Regions from separate parts of the Homo sapiens genome. Here all the other regions are linked to region 3. The links come from fine-mapping of genetic effects on gene expression. A gene starts in region 3. Each other region holds a variant in brackets. All regions are shown on one strand. Distances are between the middles of the regions. Region 1 overlaps ACO1 (aconitase 1). Region 2 overlaps ACO1 (aconitase 1). Region 3 holds the start of ACO1 (aconitase 1). Region 4 overlaps RIGI (RNA sensor RIG-I).

What was found. PIP is the estimated chance that this variant, and not a neighbour inherited with it, causes the effect.
Region 1: its variant is the best candidate, but not a certain one, in a credible set for the expression of ACO1 in pancreas (GTEx, PIP 0.82).
Region 2: its variant is the best candidate, but not a certain one, in a credible set for the expression of ACO1 in esophagus muscle (GTEx, PIP 0.88).
Region 4: its variant is the best candidate, but not a certain one, in a credible set for the expression of ACO1 in subcutaneous fat (TwinsUK, PIP 0.78).

Annotation. Positions count from the first base shown.
Region 1 is chr9:32,413,899-32,418,065 of GRCh38, forward strand. All of the region lies in intron 4 of ACO1 (aconitase 1), which reads left to right. Among named protein-coding and RNA genes, the nearest start is that of ACO1, 31 kb to the left of the region's middle. The variant C/T (reference allele first, on the strand shown) is at 2,585.
Region 2 is chr9:32,422,929-32,427,095 of GRCh38, forward strand. It overlaps ACO1 (aconitase 1), which reads left to right. Exons shown (of 21, transcript NM_002197.3): 9 at 391-491; 10 at 1,621-1,737; 11 at 2,910-3,069. Among named protein-coding and RNA genes, the nearest start is that of ACO1, 40 kb to the left of the region's middle. The variant G/A (reference allele first, on the strand shown) is at 2,344.
Region 3 is chr9:32,382,309-32,386,475 of GRCh38, forward strand. ACO1 (aconitase 1) reads left to right here and starts at 2,335. Exons shown (of 21, transcript NM_002197.3): 1 at 2,335-2,427. RefSeq lists a silencer at 2,136-2,515.
Region 4 is chr9:32,470,269-32,474,435 of GRCh38, forward strand. It overlaps RIGI (RNA sensor RIG-I), which reads right to left. Exons shown (of 18, transcript NM_014314.4): 14 at 2,707-2,797. The region is part of intron 1 of LOC124902138 (a long non-coding RNA gene); the gene reads left to right. Among named protein-coding and RNA genes, the nearest start is that of RIGI, 54 kb to the right of the region's middle. The variant C/A (reference allele first, on the strand shown) is at 2,098.

The DNA.
Region 1 (4,167 bases), 32 kb after region 3:
CAGCACTTTGGGAGGCTGAGGCAGGGGGATCATGAGGTCAGGAGATCAAGACCATCCTGGCTAACACGGTGAAACCCCATCTCTACTAAAAATACAAAAAATTAACTGGGTGTGGTGGCAGGCGCCTGTAGTCCCAGCTACTTGGGAGGCTGAGTGAGGCCCGGGAATGGCGTGAACCCAGGAGGCGGAGCTTGCAGTGAGCCGAGATTGCGCCACTGCACTCCAGCCTGGGCGACAGAGTGAGACTCCGTCTCAAAAAAAAAGAATTTCATAACATTTCTGACCAGATTTCATTAATGTGAAAACTATCTCCATGTTAATACTGTCCGTGAATTTCTGGAGCTCCATTAAATGTAATTCTCAGAAACTGAACTACATTCAATTCTGAATTCAAATGAACTAAGAAATTTCCTCTTTAGTCCGTGAGGCCATTCACATTTAGAGACCTTATTAAAAGCTCACTAGATTAGACTAATTTAGGGAAGTTCTGAGTGGTAGAAAATTCTGAATGCTAGGTCTATTCATTCCAGTAACTAGAACTAGGCTAATTGAGCCAAGCTCCATATAATAGATGTTTTGTTTTCCTGAGTAAATAGGGTTTTACCTGGAATTACTGTATCATGAAACAGTCTAAGCATTTCTGGCTTCTGCACGTCCTATGAACATGTCACTTCCATCAAACTGATACCCCCAGCATTTTCTGGGGTAAACATTCCTCCGTCAATCATCAGTCATGCTTCTGCTGTGAGAAGCTCTGCCATCCTCCTGGTGCTGGAGGGTGGAAGATCAGGGACAATGACTAGGAGTCCATAAGTGCTCACAGTATAGCAAAATAGATGGGGAGGAGAGGCAGGGGCCACATGTGGTTATAATCTTACCTGTAGTGGTAGAAATCAAGGTCAGAGATGCTTTCCTTTTTTAAAAAAATTAAATCCATTTAGCAGATCTATTATGTGCCAGTATTTATTCCAGAAACAGATTATAGTTTAGAAGGGGAGAGAAATTAGTGAACACACAGCTTTCATGCAGTTGATAAGTGTAGTCACCACAGAGAAGGGGCAAATCATCCTGACCTGGGGAGTCTGTGGGTTTTTCAAGGAGCGTCACCTGATCTGGATCCTGAGCCTGTTTACCAAGGAGAGAAGAGCTGAAAAAGACCTTCCACTCAGAGCAAATAGAGCATGCAAAGGCACGAGGAAAGTGGGGGTGGGAAGAGCATGCTGGCTACAGTGTAGCTGAAGCTGAGAGCTTGGACTGGAGGCTAGGAGAGGGCTTATAAAGGATGGCTGAGGTCAGGTTGAAGGACTTAGGTTTTTAAGACAAGGAATTTTTACTTTATAAGAAAATGGGAAGCCATTGGTAGATTCAGACTGGTGCATGATGATTTATATTTTAGAAATGATTGAGGTGACCATACCAAAGGTAGATTGAATGGCCTCACAGGGCAGCTGGTTGGGAGGCTATTTCTGGAATAAATATCTTGATAGCTATAGGTACTAAGTGGTGGGAAAAGAGCTCATTAGATATGGACAGACAGGGAAGAGGAACAGATTTAGGAAAGAAAGCCCAGCATCAGGGTTTGACCCATTGAGTTGATGGTGCCTGAAGTATTCTTGGTGCGCATGCCCGAAACACACTGGAAACATAGATCTGGACGTAGAGACAGGTGGGAACTGGAGTGATGGAGCCCTCAGCATACTATTAAGAAGGTCGAGATGAGTACCTTGAGGAGCAGCTGTGTCTCGTCCAGAGGGTCCACAGAGTCTGCTGATGCCGGTGTCGGTGCAGGTGTCCTGCCTTGTTCTGCTATCCCGGGGTCCCTCCTTTCTCTCCCTCTTTTGCTCTTCTCGAACATGTACACACACAAATAGACACTCATTCACTCAGGCAGGGATCAGCAGACTTTTTCTAGAAAGGGCCAATAGCAAATACTTTAGGCTTTGCTGGCCACATGCTGTCTCTGTCACATATTCTTCCCCCCAACACCCCAGCCTTTAAAAATGTAAAAATCATCCTTCATTTGAGGGCCAAGCATATATGGGCATTGGGTCACATTTGGCCCATGGGCTGGGTTGTAGACCCCAGCCCATGTTAGGCAGTCTCAGGAATTGATCCTACCTATTAAAGCAACCAACACTTGTCTTGGAGAATATTCATATCAAGAGAAAAAAAATCTGTGTGGTAACCAAATATGTTTTCTTTTTTTTTTTTTTTGAGATGGCGTCTTGCTTTGTCGCCCAAGTTGGAGTGCAGTGGCGCGATCTTGGCTCACTGCAACCTCCACCTCCCAGGTTCAAGTGATTCTCCTGCCTCAGCCTCTCGAGTAGCTGGGATTACAGGCGCCTGCCACCATGCCCGGCTAATTTTTATATTTTTAGCAGAGATGGGGTTTCACCATGTTGGCCAGTCTGGTCTTGAACTCCTGACCTCGTGATCTGCCCGCCTCAGCCTCCCAAAGTGCTGGGATTACAGGTGCGAGCTACTGTGCCCGGCTCCAGATGTGTTTTCTATGAGGTAAATAACACATGCTTCCGGTCCCTTTTTTCCCAAGGAGTGTCTGCCCATCTTGCTCGGGCTGACTCAC[C/T]GTCATCCTTCAGACCACATTGATACCATGTCCTTCTGGAAAGCATTCCAATCCCCCCAACCCCCACCCCCAGGTGGGTTCATGGCCCATTCCAAGTGCTCCCGTACCAGGCAGTGATGATTGCATTCTTTTGCCATTGCCCTTTCACCAGACTCAGAGTGCCAGTGGGCAGTGAGCACACAGCTTTTGCACCATTGCATTTTCAGCATGTAGCATGTGGCAGGCTCTGGGGGAGGGGAGGATCAGAGTGAGTGAGAAGCAGAGTATCATGGTCAAGGTAGAAACCCCCAGGGCCAGTCAGACCTAGGCTCAGATAACAGCACTGTGTTATCGTCTAACTTTGGACAAATTTAACCTTTCTGTGCCTCAGCTGCTGCTTCTGGATATTGAGGATGACAGTAGTATTTACATGAGGGGTTGTGATGATAAGTTCACATGTGTAAAGCTCTGAGCGCCCACAACGTAATGTTGTCCTTTAGCTCTTGCTGTTACTGTGGTGGTGTTAACTACCACTGCCACCATTACTGCCACAGTCGCTGTTAACTATGACGGGAAGTCCATGTGGTATAGGGATTAAAGGATAGTGTCAACTCGGGAGTCAGACTGCCTGGGTTTCAATCCCAGTTCCACCACTGACTAGTGTCTGTGGTCCTGAGCAAGTTTCTTAACCTCTCTGTGTCTCAGTTTCCCCACTTGAAAAATGTGGCTATTAGTTGCACCTAACTCAAAGGGATATTATGGAGACTAGATGAGAAAATTAACACAAAGCATTTAGAATAGTTGCTGGTTCCTAGTAGTGTCAAAAAGTGTTAACTACTGGGTACTAGGAAGTAGTTATCCAGTACTTCATTTATTAATGAAGTCTGACTTTGGTCTTAGCTATTAATTTTACTAGCCTTTCCTGTGTTCACTCAATCCTATGATACATGCTTTATGAGCACATTCTGTGTGCTGAATCTGCGATCTTGTGACTATGACTTATTCTACCTTGACTCAAAACAATGCAGTTTGATTTTTAAAATCCTAGAAAATCTTGGTGCCCTGTGTTGTCCTGATGGACTGAATGACGTTGAGTAAATCTTAGCGTATAATCTGTGGTTCACAGATGTTATCAAGTGACACCATCTTCCTCATAAACCTTGGTCCTACACACAGGAGATTGTGATTCTATAAGGTACTGATCCTCTAAGCATTGCTAGTTTTCTGTCTCCCAACATAAAGAGATGAAAATACCAGCCCAGACACATTCCAGGTCAGAGAGATGTTATAATGAGGTCATGGATGAGGAGTATAGAAACAAGAGTTCTTTAAATGTCCAGGCTGCTGTTGTCATATGAATGTCTTGAGTCTGTTCCTAAGAGTCAGACTTTATGATTAGATTAGTTTTAACTTCAATTCAGTTCATGTTTTCTGCCTACCATAGTTAAAGGCATTGTAGGAATCACTTGAACCAAACAATAATTACTCTCTTTACTTTCACTAGTTACCTCTCCTATTCTGCATTGTAAATAGTCATGAATGAAATTCATATTATCACTCAGCAAGCAAGGAGATGCAATTCCATTTTGTTTCTTCATCACCAA
Region 2 (4,167 bases), 41 kb after region 3:
GGTAATCATGTGGAATGCTGAATCTTTGTGGCCAGTTGAAGGCAAATGCATAGGTGTGCTTTCACAATTAGCTCAGGTGTAAGATTCTCCTAATTAAAGGCTATACCCCAAAAGAGGCGGGTTATCTATAGATAGAACCAGAATCTTTTTCAGAAAACAGTCACTTTGATAGGAACAGCACATTCATTAATGGCCCCTAATAAAAAGCAGCATCAGTGGGAGAGTCAAACCATTAGCCTGGAAGCCTAAAAATTGACAGAGCTGTTGGTGTGTGTGTAAGTGCAGCGTATGTTGCGTACTTACATAATTGCTAATGGAAGTATCAGTTTATAAACTTCAACCAGGAAATACTAACCTATGTTACTTGTTACTCCTTAAAATGCCTTTTAGGTCGTGATGAAGAAAAATTAAAGTATATTAAAAAATATCTTCAGGCTGTAGGAATGTTTCGAGATTTCAATGACCCTTCTCAAGACCCAGACTTCACCCAGGTATGAGAGTGCCTTCCACTGTGCATGTATTTCCTCTTCCTCAAGGCTGCGATTTTAGTGGTGGTTTTTCTTGGGGGAATGCGCTAGTAGGAAATTAGTCACTGCCAAGGCATTACAAGAGAACGGAGTTTTAGAAGGTTGAAAAACCAAAAGGATAAGGCAATTGTAAACATAACAGAATAATATAACTTCTTACATTCCTACTGGCTTAATAATTGTAGGTTAAGTGTGCTTCCCTATTTGAACTACTGATTCACACCTCTTAATGTGGAAGACCACTGAAAGACTTTGCTAAAGGAATAAGAATGATACAATGGACTTTGGGGACTCAGGGCAAAGGGTGGGAGGGAGGTGAAGGATAAAAGATTACAAATTTGGGTACAGTGTACACTGCTCAGGTGATGGATGCACCAAAACCTCAGAAATCACCGCTAAAGAACTTATTCATGTAACCAAACACCACCTGTTCCCCAAAAATCTATTGAAATATAAAGAAAAATAAAGAGACTTCACTAGTGGAACAAGAGCTGTTTAAAGGCTAAACCATCATTATTACAGACCTAGAAAGAAGTGAAGGTACAAACATGTCAGTAAACTGAATCCACGTTTTTCTAGACAACAAGGTAAACTAGCCCTGCGACCCATGTTTGGTTTCTTAATACATTGAGGAGGGGAAATGTTCAGTTAGACTAAGGCCCGTTTCCTGGTGTTGATAACTTAACGGCTGCATCCCTCCGAAATCACCTTAGAAGTGTAATGGTTTATGTATGATTTCAATAGAAAACCCACCTTCGGCCTAACTTAGCCATATAAAACGCGATGAGCTGCCTCCAAGGATGGGCGAGTGGAGGACACTGAGCATCTGCAGCACCCACCCTGTTCTTTCTGAGAGGTGGCAAGGCTGCCTGCCTGTCTCCTGCTACTTAAGTGCCCATGATGATCTTGGGAAATTAATCACTTAAGATTAATTAAGAGGATTAAGAGAAACACTGGCTTCCTTGTTTTGGAATGTGGTAGTTTATTTGCTTATTTTTATGGTTGTCATGTTTTAAATTCTCTGACATGCTTTGGGTTTCCTCTTTGTGGGTATAATGTAAATTCTATAATTTCTTTTCTTTGGGGTCAACAGGTTGTGGAATTAGATTTGAAAACAGTAGTGCCTTGCTGTAGTGGACCCAAAAGGCCTCAGGACAAAGTTGCTGTGTCCGACATGAAAAAGGACTTTGAGAGCTGCCTTGGAGCCAAGGTAGGGGCCTGCGGGAAGAGGTTGAATCCTCTCAACTCTACCTCTTGCCTGGTTACTCAGCGTCCAGGCTTTCATCCCACTTGACATGAATCTTCCTGTAGCCTGAAGCTTGAGGGTGTTTATTCTTCCTTCTGAAGTCCTTAATGACTTCCTCCATTAGTCACGAGCCAAGCGGCAAGAGCCATCATAGACACAACTCAACCCACCTTTTTAAGCATGTCTGCTTTTCACAGGACCCTCACCACACTGTTTACTCACCCGAGGTTTTCTAGCTGTTGCACCTTTGTGCATGCCCCTCCCTGCCTGAAAGTCTCTTCTCCAACTCATATTACTCTGTTCTGTGAACTCCATAAGACTTGGTTCAGATACCAGCTACTCTGCATTGGGTTCTCAGAATCTCATAGCAGAAAGTCCCCTTTCCCTTATTGGACACTTCATGGTGCTTGGGCTGAAATACTTCGATAGCATTCCATATTCTTTAACTTACATTGTTGGTACTTTATTTGCATGTATGATTTCTGTTGCTAGACTGTACGTGTGAGAATAGGATTTGTGTCTGAATCACCTTGGGAGCCCGCAAGGTACCTAGCACAGTATCTTACATGC[G/A]GTAGATTTTCAATGAACATTTCCCAAAAGAATGATTAAGATGTATGATGGATTTTATCTGTGAGACACCAGTATTATGCCAAATATTCAGCTGTACTTTGTTTGCGTTGTTGATCATGATTAATTGAGTCTGGTCAAAATAGCGCCTTTTTCTAAATTTCCATAAGGTTAGAATCCATAGTCTTAATCAGTCCATATCCATTAAACTGTACAATAATGTCATTGAGTTCAATTTAGACTAACTTTAAATTTGTAGTTTTAGCATTTACATTTTTGAGGTGGGAAGGAAGTAATTGTTACTAATTTCAGTGCAGAGTAAGACTCAGATATCATGACTGCTTTTTGTAAAGATTTCAAACGAGTAATTTTTCTGTAGCATTTCAGAGTTTACTTGCAGAGATACTTATGCTTTTGTTAAGAATTGGCCTTTAAAATTATAGTTACCAAAGTATTCCTTCTTCTCAAGTGAGAACTGTTGACTATATGTATGTATTTTCCTCTAGCCAGATACATGTATATCTTATATAAATATATTCCTATATAATATACATTTTTTCTTCCTTTAGCAAGGATTTAAAGGATTCCAAGTTGCTCCTGAACATCATAATGACCATAAGACCTTTATCTATGATAACACTGAATTCACCCTTGCTCATGGTTCTGTGGTCATTGCTGCCATTACTAGCTGCACAAACACCAGTAATCCGTCTGTGATGTTAGGGGCAGGTAAGTGCATTTGACTCCATCCTCATGGTCATACATGTGTGTAGGTGGAAATAGCCCGAGACAGGGCCCAGGGCCTTGGCGGAGTTGTACATGTAGTTCCCTGAACCTCGTCTTTTCCAGATACAGATATTTATTGGCCCATAAATATCTACACAATAAATAGTATCCAAAGCAAAGTTTTTAAAATCGAATGCACACTGCATAATAGTCTCTCTTGAGAATTAACACAGAAAATAAGTAGAGGAAAGCAAAGGAAGCTGGATTTCTGGGAAAGCCTACATTCTTGTGTCAGACTTTGGAAGAAAAATAAAGTGTTACCACAGACTTTGTTCTCCGTGAAACCCCTGAGCAGCAGGATTGAGTTCTGACGTGAATGCTGGGAGGTGTTTCTCAGTGAGGGCACAGGGCACTGGCTGATAAAACCTGGGGCCACTGGCCTGTTTCGCAATTCTGGTTGAGTTGTTAATATTTACATATGTGGTTTCCCTACTATAAGGTCTCTTTAGTTTCCAAGTTTTTAGTCATCCCCAAAGCTCCTCTTATATCCATCCACAGACCAGACAGTGTCAGCAGTTCCTTTCTATGAAGCAGACACGGGCATTAGGAAAGCCTTCTTTGCCTGAGTCCGTGTATTGCCACCTAAGCTTTCCTTGTCTGGTCTGGAGCAAACCAGTCTTCTGTAGACAAGTTACCAGCTTGTCTGTGGCTTTTTGTCCCCTCATGTCCCCACCCCCACTGCTCATGTTTTTGCTACTTCTGTGATACTTCCTAAGACAGAGCACCCAGTGTTCCAGTAGCAGTCTCTGTATCTGCCAAAGTCCAGCAGATCCTCCACTTCAAGATATATCTGAACACTCGATTTTTACTTCTTGGCTGACCGTTCCTTGCCAGCCAGCACACAGCTGATATAGTTTCAGAAAGGGCTCCTTCAATGATGATTTTCATCCAAATAAAACATAATTAGAAAGATGATTTTCCCTCTAAAAAAAAAATTAAAAACTCATTTTGTAATATATTCCTAAATGGTTTTACATTTATCTCTTTAAAAAAAAAGTAAGCAAATCTCTTTCTTCATTTCCTTGCCTAGCTTTGAGTTTA
Region 3 (4,167 bases):
AAGAGAGCACGAAAATTAAACGTATAGCAGGTGTGGTGGGAAGAGGGCATCAGGGGAGAGCCGTTGGATATTTACCGGGAGCCAAGATGAGGCTAAGACCTGCCTCTCCTTGTTATGAATTTAACTCTTTTTTTCTTAAAGAGGAACAAAACGTTTATTTCAAATTTTCTCTGGTATGAAGACATATATTCAGTGAAAAATTTAGGGATTCTAAGGTCCCCTCAAAGCATTCAGGAGGACCACTGTGCATTCAGAGGACACTCTCTTGCCTGCTGCCAGGTAAGACATACCTGCTTCCCCTTCTGCCATAATTGTAAGCTTCCTGAAGCCTCCCCAGCATGCAGAACTGTGAGCCAATTAAACCTCCTTCCCTATGAATTACCCAGTCTCAGGGTTCTTTACAGCAGCGTGAGAACGGTCTAATACAGACACCTTTGGAATATCCAGGTGGGGTTGCCACATATGGCTGCAAATCAAGAGTGTGAAGGTCAGAAAGTTAACTAAGACCAATGACAGAGACATAGCAGGCTTCAGCTAGAAGTGGCAGGCAGTCTGCATACTGAGAAAATAGATGAAGAAAAACTCAGCAAATGGAGAAACATATAAAGCAAGAGGAGAGAGTGTAGGGAAAGACCTTAAAAAAGAGGGACAAAAGAGGGAAGAGGTGACTCCTAAGAGCGGAGGGCTGAAAAGCCAAAAGGAGGTTAACATTTCTAGGAAAACGAATCGCCAGTGTCAAATACCACAGAGTAGTGAGTAAGGACAGGAACAGAGGACAGGCCCTGGGATTCACGATCTGCACGTCACTGGTGACAACGTCCAAGAGCAACAGACTGGGGGGATGTGGAACTATTTCCTTCACGGTTTTGACCAGCGTGCTTACTAATAAATCTCAATTCCCTTCATAGCTCTGATTTGATTGTTTTCTGCGAAGGATTCTCAGTTACACGGATGTTATCATTGAACATTAGATACTTTGCTTTCCGAATGGCTGCCTCATTAAGAATCGCAATTTAGCTGGATGTGTCCTCATCGGACTTCCCCAGCCTTCTACTCACTCTCACCTTGCCCCTACTCTCCCTACCTCCCAAGGGGACTGGAGCATGATTTTTCAGGGATTGTGGTGCACCTCTGCCATATGGTGGACATTCAAAGAAAATTTAATTACTAATGTGAATGGAAAGGATTTAGGAAGTGGGTGGGAAAACAGTCTCCTCTCATATTGGAAATACAGTTACTTCCCCTTTCAAAATAAATATAAGTATTTATATTTCAAAGTTAAATATAACTAGACGATAGTTGTACCCTATAGTGCAGTATGACAGGGAAGGTGTAGGCTTTGGTGTCAAACCAACCTAAGGACTGAGTCTCAGCTGTTGCGCATTGCACACCTGCAAAGACGGGTAATATTCTTTACTTGTAAGGTGGTTGGAAGAGCTGAACTGAATAACGTGGAAAGAGTCGATCACAGGGCTTTGTGCAGAATAGGAGGGCAGTATAAAGTAGCAGGGGGGCTATTAGTACTGGCTATTGTTTACTCATCCTATAAGCTGCTTATTCAGAAAACTACAGTAACTTTCCAAATAATTTGGGCAGGAAAACCTCACCACCTTTCATCTAGAAAGATCTAATCACTTCTTTGAACGCCATTCACCCAAGAGGGCACAACTCCTACCAACATGAAAAGCAGATCTTGTGAAAGCCCACTTGCTGCCATCTCCCAGCCATTTCTCCGACTTCAGACCGGTGAACATCGTGCATTAGAAAGTGTTGTTACATGTCCAAGGAAATCTACATATAGAACTTTTGCCACGGAAATGCTGAAGTCCTATTCTGACAGCGTGACTCCGATGTCCACTTGGCAGGCTTTGCGCAAAGAATTAAGGCGAGGGTGGAGAGGGTGGGTAGGGTGGGGACGGACAAAGTGAGAAGGGAGGCGGGCCAAGTGACCACACGTACATGAAGCCTCTCCAGTTATGGCCAAATCATTTTTTAAAAATAATTCCATTTCTTCCCCACCCTTTGGTCACTTCCTAACGCCGGCTGGGGAGTCACATGCTAAGCTCCAAAGTGAGCAACAGACACCCTCGTCCCAGGTCCCATGCTGGCAGAAGCGGACCCGGGCCGAGGGATCAGCCCTCCCACTTCCAGCGGAGGAGCCCTTCGCAACCCTAGCCTCCAGCCCGGGGCGAAGTCCTCCAGGCCCGCGGGGGCGCCCGCAGGCTCCGCCCCTTCTTCGGCTAGCTGCCCGTCCGTCCCGCCCCTGCTCCGCCCTTCCCGCCCCTGCTCCGCCCATCGCGCGGCGGCCCCGGGGGCGAGAGGGGGCGGAGCGTGGAGGCGGCAGCTGGAACCGCGCAGCGCACGGGAACGCGTCCCGCTGCTTGGGTCAGGTTCGCCGGTCGCGGGAGCCCCGCCGTGCAGTCGGAGGTGAGTACCGACGCGGCCCGACCCACGTCCCCAGGCGGGAGCGCCGTCCACCCTGTATCCCTCGAGAGTCGGTGCGGGCCTTTACCGAGGTGCCCGAGGCAGTGGCGGCACGGGGGACACGGAGGCGAGCTTGGGGAGGCTGAGAGGAGAATCGGGGACGTGTTTCTGGCGACTGACGTCTCCACCCTGTCCCCAGTCTATGTCATGCCGGGGAGAGAAACCAGGGATTGGAAGTGGCTTTCCTAGACCCTTCTTAGCCTTGGCTGTGCGTGCTGTCCTGAAAGTCCTTGCCTAGGGTGTGCGGCCAGTCCTGGGAGTCCTAACCCCGAGGGTGTGAGGCCCGCACTGGGAGTCCTCGCCCAGGCCCGGCTGGCTGGATAGGGAAACCCTTGCTAAAGTTGTGCGGGCAGATCCGGGAATCCACTCCAAGGGGTAAAGGGAAAATGGGATGAGGGGGAAGAGACCCTTCGTGGGAGGCTTGAACACAGAGCCCACCATGATAGATTCAGAGATCTAGAAAGGAGCTTGGGCTGCAGTTATGACCAAGTCATTTTTTTCTAGATTCAGCTAGCACATCATAATGGCATCTTCCTTCTTGCAACACATGTAACTCTCTTCCCTGGGGGACAACCTCTAGGACAGAAGTCCCCAAACTTTTCTGGTACTCAGTACTCCTTTACACTCTTAAAAATTAGTATCTTAAGGAGCTTTTATGTGTGTTATATCTATCCATATTTATAATATGTAAGTAAGACTGAGAAATTTGTACTATAATAATTCATTTAAAAAGAATAGTGAACTAATTATATCTTAACATTGCCTATTTTTATGAAAAAGAACTATATTTCCCAAAACAGAAAATGATTGAGAAGAGTGGCATTGTTTTACATTTTTGCAAATCTCTTTGATGTCAAGCGTAATTGAAGACAGCTGGATTCTGATAGCTGCTTCTGCAGTCTGTTGCAATATCACATATCATGTAGCCTCTTGAGACCTCCACTGTATACTCCTGAAAATGTGTGAATGAAAAAAAGCAAGTAACATTTTATTACTAGGAAAATGGTTTTGACTTTGGAGATCCCTAGGAGTTCTCTGCACCACACTTTGAGGATGCTGGTGTAGGAAATGCTTCAGAGGCTTCATTCATTGGGCCTGCTTCTTGTTTGTGATCCTTCCTCTGATTGGGAACACACACCACCTCATGCCATGGACAGTATTAACCTCTGGTATCTGGAACCAAGTTTGATCTCACTTTGGAAACCATGTACTAGGTCCCCACGTGAGGCTGTGATGAACCTTGCCAGCCTCCTGAAAAGTCAGCAAGGCTTCGCACATGCCTTTGGTTGTCTCTGTGCTTGCAGAGCTGACCTGTCTGTGCATCAGGATTACAACAGTGATGTGGCAAACAGGACCTGTAGGCTCACAAAAGTGCCAGTGGGGAGACCATGCCAAGTGTGTAGGGGTTCCTGTGAGAGTTACCAAGTAGTCAGGAAGTTATTTCCAAAAGAACAAGGAGGCATGCTTTTGCCTTCCCTTGCACGTGTTCATTTCTGTTTGCAGTTGCATGGTTATTAGCCTTGAGTTTATTGGAATAATGATTTCCAGTCTTGACGTTCTTTCACTTTCCACTTTCAGAGGGTGTCACTCTGAGTGGTGCTTCCTCAGCCCCTGTCAAAAAGCAGTTTCCACCATCCTGGAGTGTGGTAGGTGAGGTCCTTCACGGGACTCTTTCCTTAGCTT
Region 4 (4,167 bases), 88 kb after region 3:
CATGCCAGGCATTGTTCTAAACCAGAAGTGGGCAAACTTTTTCCATAAGGGCTAGATGTATAGTAAATACTTTAGGCTCTGTGGGTCATGCTGTCTCAGCTACCCAACACTGCCATTATAGTTGGAAAGCAGCCACAGACAATACATACATGAATGGTCATGACTGTGTTCCCCCAAAAAGTTATTTTATAGACAATGAAATTTGAATTGCACAAACCTTTCACATGTCATAAAATATTCTTTTGATTTTTTTTCAAACAAAAATCATTCTCAGCTCAAGAGTCATTCATAAGCAGGCAGTGAGCCAGATTTTGCTACTGACATTAACCCTCTCAGCTAGGTACTATTATTATTTTTCCATTTGACAGATGAAGAAAGTAAGTCATGAAGAGGTTAGGTAACCTGCTTCTTCATGAAACAGGAAATTAAGAAATGGAAATGTGGAAATATACAAATTTAGCAAACTGAACTTTTGCTTGTTTACATGCAGCTTTTTGTAAAAAAAGGTGTTCACAATTCTTCTAGCTTAACTGTGCAAGGAAGAGGATCAGACCAGAAACAAATTCAGCTAAAATTGTCTTAATTTACTGGTAAATCAAGTTTAACCCATTCGATAAAAGCTATAGAGTTCACACTGATAAACTGAGTGAAGAAAATACTTCAGTGGTCTCTACCTCAGGGTTAACAGAATTTATAGAAGCTCCAATTGGCTAGGCATGGTGTTTCACACCTGTAATCCCAGCATTTTGGGAGGTCAAGGTGGCAGATTACTTGAGGCCAGGAGTTCAAGACCAGCCTGGCCAACATGGCAAAATCCTGTCCCTACTAAAAATACAAAAATTAGCTGGGCATGGTGGTGTGCACCTGTAATCCCAGCTACTTGGGAGGCTGAGGCATGAGAATCACTTGAAACTGGAAGGTTGCAGTGAGCTGAGTTCGTGCCACTGCACTCTAGCCTGGAAAACAGAGCAAGACTCTGTCTCAAAAATAAAATAAAATAAATAAAAGTTCCAATTTTTTCCTAATATATTTCCAGCCCAAATCTTGAGATATATTTTGCTAAGGCCAAAACAATTTCTTTTCACCATCATCATCTACTAAACAATGAGCATCTCTGGAACAGACATCATACGTGATTAATTTCTTAGTTTATTCATCTATTCAGTCAAACATTTATTCAGCAATTATGGCTTGTCAGATAAAAATAATGATTAAAAGGTCCATTTTTATCCACAAGGAGCTCACATTTTGTAGAAGAAAAATATAAATAAGAAGCTATAATTGAGTATGATGAGCACAGAAAGGATGCTATGCGAATGTGGAAGAAGGAGCTCTCTACCAGTTTTTGGAGGTTGGGGAAGGCTACATGGCAGAAGCACAATGCCTGGCACAGCACAAGTTATAAATAAATGTTGTTGAATGAACGGATGAATAAATGAACAAACCAATAAGAAAATATTTCCTGAGTGTCTACTTGTGGAGGAACAACAAAGTTTGAAAATCAAGGAGGACTCATGTTGGAGTCAGATCGCAGAGAACTTTGAATCCCAACCACAAAAATATGGTGTTAGACTTCATTTGGTGAGCCACTTTTTAAGATCTGAATCTACTTTTCATATTTATGAAGTTTAAAAATGACATGAAGGGAAAGTGCGAGGGTGATAACTAGGGACTGACAGGGTGGGTATGGGAGGGTGCTTATTATAAACAACACTAAATAGGAAGACTTGTCAGTGCCAGTCACTGAGGGGTGGGGGGCACAGCTGTGAGGTGGTCAGGATGAGGGCGGGCCACCTAGGATCCTCCCAGATAATAACACAGGCAGCCTTTTATCCTTTGACCACTCTAGCTGGATTTCAGAATTGTCTGCTTGGACTTTTTAAAATTGTAAAATACATAATATACACAAAAGCTATGCATATCTACTGCTTAAAGAATAACAATAAAACAGAAATAGAACATTTCTATTTCTAGACAATCTTAATCTATTGGTTGAAAATTTGAGCAGGATGATAATGCGTGCAAGCATGACTTAAAAAACAACCCTGGCTTTGTCTGCAGGACATATGAGAGGAGGCAATGTCTACAAGGAAAGAG[C/A]CTGGAGTGGTTTTTGGCATTTGAGCATTGTGATGGCTTTTTGATGCATTAACTTGGCTAGGCCAAACAACAGTTCCCAGTAATTCATCTAGGTACTGCTCTGAAGAGATTTTACCGATGGGATTCAAGTCCCTAATCAGTTGACTTTAAGTCAGATCAAAAGAGAGTTCACTCCAGGTGGGCCTGGCCTAATCAGGTGAGCCTTTTAAAAGACGGCTTAGGCCTTCTCCAAAGTCAGAGACTCCAAACAGCTCATGTCTGGGGGGTTCCAGTCTGTTCCTGATAGTCTCTTCCTGACTACCTGCCCTACACGCTTCAGACTTGCTTTGCCAGCCCAATTGTGTAAAATTCCTTGCAAGAAATCTCTGTATATATGCATATGTGGACACATATACAACACACACCTCTCATATATATGTATAATCACCTACTGCTTTTGCTTCTGTGGTTAAACCTTGACTGATAGAAGCATTAAAACAGAACTTGAAATATATATTAAAACAGAATTTGAAATATATATTATATATATACACACACACATATACATACACACACACACATATTCTTAAATGCATAATCCACTAAATCTAATTCACTATATATAAATACCTGTGTTCTGATTTGTTTTGCCACGTCCAGTCAATATGCCAGGTTTTAGAAAACTGAGTTTAGGATTTCCTTCAATCCAATTTTTTAAAGCCTGAAAATGAAAAGCAATTATCAATTGGACACTCCTTATAAATCATTTGTATTAATTCAATATTGAAATACATGCAAAAAGAAAAAAATTTAAAGTTAGTACACGTACAGTTTTCAGACTGACAAACCTGAGAAAAAAAGCATTTTGGAATTGAACTCTATGTAATAATTAACTAAAATGGCATAGATCTCTGTAACCTGATATGGTTTAATCTCTAAGACTTTTTTTTTTTTTTTTTTTGAGATGGAGTCTTGGTCTACCGCCTAGGCTGGAGTGCAGTGGCACGATCTTCGCTCACTGCAACCTCCGCCTCCCAGGTTCAAGCAATTCTTTGCCTCAGCCTCCCGAGTAGCTGGGATTACAGGCATCAGCAACCATGCATGGCTAATTTTTGTATTTTTAGTAGAGACAGGATTTCATCATGTTGGCCAGGCTGGTCTTGAATTCCTGACCTCGTGATCCACCCACCTCATCCTCCCAAAGTGCTGGGATTACAGGCATGAGCCACCGCACCTGGCCATCTCTAAGACATTTTTAAAAGAAAAAACAAAAGTTCAAAAATAGTGGGTATGTAGAATAAGTGAGTTTAGCATGATCACAGGACAGGAGATCAATATACATAATTCAACTGAATTTCTACATACTAGCAACAAACTATTGGAATTTCAAAAGTTTTTAAGTACTGGACACAGTGGCTCACACTTATAATCCCAGCATTTTGGGAGGCCGAGGCAGGAGAGTCACTTGAGCCCAGGAGTTCAAGACCAACCTCGGCAACATGGCAAAAGCCTGTCTCTACTAAAAATACAAAAATTAGCTGGGCATGGTGGCACACACCTGTAGTCTCAGCTACTCAGGAAGCTGAGGCAAGAGAATCGCTTGAACCGGGGAGGCATAGGTTGCAGTGAGCCGAGGTTGTGCCACTGCACTCCGGCCTGGGTGACAGACCGAGACTCCGTCTCAAAATTAAATAAATAAAAATAAAAATTAGCTGGGTGTGGTGGTTTACACCTGCAGTCCCAGCTACTGGGGAGGCTGAGATGGGAGAATCACCTGAGCTAGGGAAGTTGAGGCTGCAGTGAGCTGTGATCACACTAGTGTACTCCAACCTGGGCAATGAGAGTGAGACCCTGTCTCAAAAAAAAAAAAAAAAAAAAAAGGTTTTAAAGTACCATTTATAATAGCATCAAAAAATTAATACCTAGGTATAAGTCTAACAAAATATGTGCAGAATCTGCTGAAAATGACAAAACACTGATAAAAGAAACCAAAGAACATCTGGTTAGTCTACCTCTAAGGTAGCCCTCAATGATCTCCACCTTCTGTATTCAGATCCTCATGTAATCCCCTCCCCTGAGTGTGAAGGGGAC